Linked DNA regions of Homo sapiens: region 1 is linked to region 2. The links come from fine-mapping of genetic effects on gene expression. A gene starts in region 2. The other region holds a variant in brackets. All regions are shown on one strand. Distances are from middle to middle. Region 1 overlaps EGF (epidermal growth factor). Region 2 holds the start of EGF (epidermal growth factor).

Region 1 (2,920 bases), 80 kb after region 2:
TCCTTCAAAGCAGGAAGAAAGCTTCCAGCCTCTCTCAGGAGCTTAGAACACCTGCATGGGGCTGGGTGTGGTGGCTCATGCCTGTAATCCCAACACTCTGGGAGGCCAAGGCAGGAGGATCACTTGAGGCCAGGAGTTTGAGACAGCCTGGGCAACATAGCGAAACACTGTTCTCCACAAAAAAAAAATTAAAAACAAACAAGCAAACAAGAACTAACCAATCATAGTGATGCAAGCCTGTGGTCCAAGCTACTTGGTGGGTTGAGCTGGAAGAATTGCTTGACCCTAGGAGGTCAAGGCTACAATGAGCCATGATCACACCACTGTACCTCATCCTTAGCAACCAAGCAAGATTCTTTAAAAAAAAAAAAAAAAAAAAAAAAAAAAAAGACAGAGAGAGAAAGAACGGAAACAAAAAAGGAAAACAACACGTGCATGGGCATGCGTTGTAGGACCTAGTTCATCTCTCCAACATTCATGAAAGTCCCCTTAAACCTAAAAATGTATAGGGCTGTGCTCGCTTTGGCAGCACATATACTAAAATTGGAATGATACAGAGAAGATTAGCATGGCCCCTGCGCAAGGAGGACATGCAAATTCGTGAAGCGTTCCATATTTTTAAAGTCAGGAAACAACAGGTGCTGGAGAGGATATGGACAAATAGGAACACTTTTACACTGTTGGTGGGACTGTAAACTAGTTCAACCCCTGTGGAAGATAGTGTGGTGATTCCTTCAGGGATCTAGAACTAGAAATACCATTTGACCCAGCCATCCCATTACTGGGTATATACCCAAAGGAATATAAATCATGCTTCTATAAAGACACATGCACACGTATGTTTATTGCAGCACTATTCACAATAGCAAAGACTTGGAACCAACCCAAATGTCCAACAATGATAGACTGGATTAAGAAAATGTGGCACATATACACCATGGAATACTATGCAACCATAAAAAATGATGAGTTCATGTCCTTTGTAGGGACATGGATGAAGCTGGAAGCCATCATTCTCAGCAAACTATCACAAGGACAAAAAACCAAACACTGCATGTTCTTACTCATAGGTGGGAATTGAACAATGAGAACACTTGGACACAGGGTGGGGAACATCACACACAGGGGCCTGTTGTGGGGTGGGGGGAGGGGGGAGGGATAGCATTAGGAGATACACCTAAAATAAATGACGAGTTAATGGGTGCAGCACACCAACATGGCACATGTATACATATGTAACAAACCTGCACCTTGTGCATGTGAACCCTAGAACTTTAAGTATAATAAAAAATATATATTAAAAAAATATATAGGTCTCTGAGAACATATAGCATGACAGAAGCTGATGAAGCTCCTCTTCCAAAGGCTGTCCAACTATAAAACCCTCTTTTTCTGTACCCCACTTTTCTCTCCCGTACTCTGTCTTTTCTGACAGATATTGATGAGTGCCAACTGGGGG[A/T]GCACAGCTGTGGAGAGAATGCCAGCTGCACAAATACAGAGGGAGGCTATACCTGCATGTGTGCTGGACGCCTGTCTGAACCAGGACTGATTTGCCCTGGTAGGTTGGTGGGTGGTCTACAGTGAAGGGGAGGGACTTGGCTCGGGGATATTCTATACCCTAATCTCTATTTGCATTAGAGATTCTAAAAATCATTCAGTTCAGGCAGGCTGCAGAGCTGGCTTTCCTGATTAGGACGATGCTGGGCTTGAGAATTTGAAATGGTCCAAGTTTTCTTAATTTAATAGCATCTGGAATAAATCCTTTTTTATTACTCACAATCCAATAAAGATGGGAACATGGGTATCTCTCTTCAACTGTGCAACTAATCTCACTATTTGTAATGTCAATTTGTGGGGCTGCTGGATAAGTTTTGCAGGGCTAGGCAGGTCGGTGAGAATGTCTGGACTCAGCATTTTAAATCACTTTCAAGGATTTTAAAATATTACTTTAAAAAGGCAGTATTTCTTGTTCTGAATTAGAACTCCAGCTCTCTTCTCTTTCTTTTCTCAATATTCATAATGGTTGACTCCTGCTTCCTGAATCTTCTTCCCATAACAGCAGTAACATCTCACCATCAGCACCCCAGAAGGGGAGCTGGCTTCACCTAGACCCTGGAGACCAGGATGGGGGTCTTTCCCATCACTGCCCACTTTTTGCCTGTCAGCCCTATAAGCAGAAAACATCCTAAGAAGAAAAATTCTGTGCTTACTTGGTCTCTGTTTTTTTTTTTTTAGCATATTATTTTTCTCAAATAATTTGCTCTTCTTAAAGGTACTGAAAAACTGCTTATATTTATGTAGTCAGCTGCACATGTTTACCTTTTAAGGAGCAGTGAACCATTCAATAAAAGAGACTTTACTATTATATTTTGGCATGCCCTCTGTTACGGGAACATTTTCTTCCTGCCAGAGTTGCTACAGTCTTGTCCTTGAGGGCTCCTCTGAAGGTTAGTTTTTAGAAGAAAGCACTGTGAGAAAAAATTTTCGAGACTCCAGGATATTGGAGGTAACGGACTGCACATTGATGGGTAGGTTTTAAACCATAGAGTTACCAGTTGTTCAGTGAGACCTTGAAGCTAACTGTCACTTCACATGGTTAGTGTATGTTTGTGTGTGACAGGTTTGTTTTTATGAGATCAGTGACTCTGAATTCACATGGCGACTTAGGACTGGGTGTTCTTTTACCTGCCTCCAATATGCTTTATGTATCAGATAATACTGAGCCCAAAGGAAGAACGGCTGGTTTCATAGTGAATGACTAAGGTCTAGCTAGGAAAGTGAAACTATTGTCCCTTCTAGTAGTTCTTCTGTCACTAAAAGATTTATGTCACAAACTATTCACAGAAACTAGTTCCTCATATTGATACTTGAAAGACACTAATCCATTCAGAAAGTAAAAGTAATGTCTTGGGTTCTTTTA
Region 2 (2,920 bases):
TGGGATGCTGGCAATGTATTGTGCTGAAAGGGAAGCTTATTAATAAAGTTAGTAACTCGAAGAGTCAGTGCAGGTTATTTGTAGGATGCTCATTATGAGTCTTGAGTCTGACTCAGTCCAGAAAGCAATGGAATATTCCGCATAACCACCTAAAGGACTTCTCTTTCCCCCTTCCCCAGGGTCTGTTTCTCCTGTAAGGGTTCAGAGCTGCCTGGCAGAGGCTGGCTGAAATAGGAGAAATCCTGACTTAAGCTGTTTCAGGAAAGTGATCCAGTCTTTGGAGAATAATCAGGACATAATTAAGTATGAGTAAAAGGCTTAGAGTTAGTCTGTTCTCCTCTGTAATGGGGTGTTCACTAGTGTGACAGTTGTTTTTGTGACTATTGCTTTTACGTACATTTTTGACCAGCACTTGGAACACTACCTCAGGGTAACTTAAATGAAAGTCCATTTTCCAGGATGGAGTAAACTGACAGAAATTTCCATCGTGCATCAAATCTGCTATAAGTTGTTTGCCTTCTGGGTATTTTTGGGCCCTAGTTGTACTCCTGAAGAAATAACCACTGTTGCTCCAAGTAGAAAGTGGTTGAGGAGACAGCTAACAGATACGTCCAGTTCTTATTTTCTATCACAGAGATGTGAAAAAAAAAAAGCCTAAATTATCTTAGAAGGAAAAGCATTCCTCTGTGCTGGATTTCCAGTGCTTCCCAGCTTTGCACTGTTAGCTTATTTTTTCCAATGTCCCTATAATAACAATCCACTCCTTTCTCTGCACTCCTGGCCCCTCGTGATGTTTTATCATGCTCATGCTGAAAGAAAAGGTGTCTGTCCATACTGTATCTCTTCATTTGGCCTCAGGGATTTCCCTTTGATTTGGAAAGAATAATCTTTCAAATTCCGCTATAAACTATACAGGAGAAAGAGAAAAATAAGATAAAGCTCCTGGAATGTGCACTGGTATTGACATTTCGTTCAAATAATGGGCTGAAGGTGAACTATCTTTACTATTGCTCATGTGAATGATCAATTATTATCAATCCAAACTATCAACAGTGCTGCTTATTATTGATTTATACTGCATGGTTTAATTTTGTCTCCATCCTTCCAGACATTAAAACATAGCCAATATTTAGCAGTTCCCGCCATTCACCATGAGCACCTCCACAGCCCCCAACTCCTCTCTCCCAGTTCTGCCCAGGATATTTATGGTGAGTAGCGAGTTATCTCCTCTTTGGCAGTCATCCCTGCTTTCCTGTGTGGAGGAATTGCCCACATTCGCATTTGCAAACAGAGGCTCACTCAAGTGTCACTAAAGGAAAGGAGGTGGAGCCTGAAGAGCTTTAAAAAGCAAAGCTGAGTCATTCCACTTTTCAAAAAGAGAAACTGTTGGGAGAGGAATCGTATCTCCATATTTCTTCTTTCAGCCCCAATCCAAGGGTTGTAGCTGGAACTTTCCATCAGTTCTTCCTTTCTTTTTCCTCTCTAAGCCTTTGCCTTGCTCTGTCACAGTGAAGTCAGCCAGAGCAGGGCTGTTAAACTCTGTGAAATTTGTCATAAGGGTGTCAGGTATTTCTTACTGGCTTCCAAAGAAACATAGATAAAGAAATCTTTCCTGTGGCTTCCCTTGGCAGGCTGCATTCAGAAGGTCTCTCAGTTGAAGAAAGAGCTTGGAGGACAACAGCACAACAGGAGAGTAAAAGATGCCCCAGGGCTGAGGCCTCCGCTCAGGCAGCCGCATCTGGGGTCAATCATACTCACCTTGCCCGGGCCATGCTCCAGCAAAATCAAGCTGTTTTCTTTTGAAAGTTCAAACTCATCAAGATTATGCTGCTCACTCTTATCATTCTGTTGCCAGTAGTTTCAAAATTTAGTTTTGTTAGTCTCTCAGCACCGCAGCACTGGAGCTGTCCTGAAGGTACTCTCGCAGGAAATGGGAATTCTACTTGTGTGGGTAAGTACTCCAATGAAAAGGTGCTCCAGGTCTCCGGGAAACTGCCCCCACATCCCTGTTGGTTCAATCTGGTATACTTGGGCATTTAACAAAGTTTGTCTTTGGGTATGTATAGTTGCTTAATTTTTGTTTTCTGATGCATGTTTATTTTCTTACTGGCCATTAGAGCTAATCTGCTACCAACTATAAAACTTCATAACTCTCAAACTGTACTTCTGTGTATAAGTGAATGAATATGCCTCATTTTAAACTAGCAGAACATTTCATGGAAGCTTCAGCTTTTACTCTGACAAGAGGAGTAATTAACACCTGGCTAATTGCTTGGAAATTAGGGAAACAGATGGTTGATTTTTTGTTTGTCTGTTTGAAACTCTTAAGCCACAAAGAAAAAAATCCTTCCTTCTGATAACTTGTAAGAATTCAGAAGTTCTAAAAATTAGTGAAAAATGGAAAGGGAACTGTGAACAAAGGTAGTTGTGAAAATTAACCTAAATTTCAATTTCAACCTCCTTCACTTTCTCCCCACTCTTACTGTTTCTGAGGCTCTGACACAACTCCGGAGTTTTAGTAACAGGTGCATTGCAACTTTAAGAACTGCCAAATATGATAATGGGTAAATAAGCCACACTGTCCTCTCATATTAAATGAATTTTTTGCCAAGGGGAAATGGGAGCTTGACTGAATGCGAATTACAATCCTGCCAAAGGATATTGCCTGAAAAACATTCTCTCTCTAACTGTTAATTCATTTATTTAATCCTTGGGTGAGCCTCCAACCTGCTGCTTAGACACGGCAGCCGCCTTTGTTGATGAGAGGTTATAGCTGCCCCGACATTCCATTTTTATCAGCTTGCCCTTTTGAGATGGCGTCTGGCTTTTAAAAAGAGGTAGATTGAGGGGGAAAACACAGTACAGTTTCCAGAAGAGACACCTATGGAAGACAGTACACAATAGGCAATAGTTTGAATAA

What was found. PIP is the estimated chance that this variant, and not a neighbour inherited with it, causes the effect.
Region 1: its variant is fine-mapped to the expression of EGF in whole blood (INTERVAL, PIP 0.94).

Annotation. Positions count from the first base shown.
Region 1 is chr4:109,991,812-109,994,731 of GRCh38, forward strand. EGF (epidermal growth factor) reads left to right here. Exons shown (of 24, transcript NM_001963.6): 19 at 1,436-1,558. It also overlaps the pseudogene RNU6-35P. Among named protein-coding and RNA genes, the nearest start is that of EGF, 80 kb to the left of the region's middle. RefSeq lists an enhancer at 2,687-2,920. The variant A/T (reference allele first, on the strand shown) is at 1,460.
Region 2 is chr4:109,911,512-109,914,431 of GRCh38, forward strand. EGF (epidermal growth factor) reads left to right here and starts at 1,372. Exons shown (of 24, transcript NM_001963.6): 1 at 1,372-1,951. The coding sequence starts at 1,825.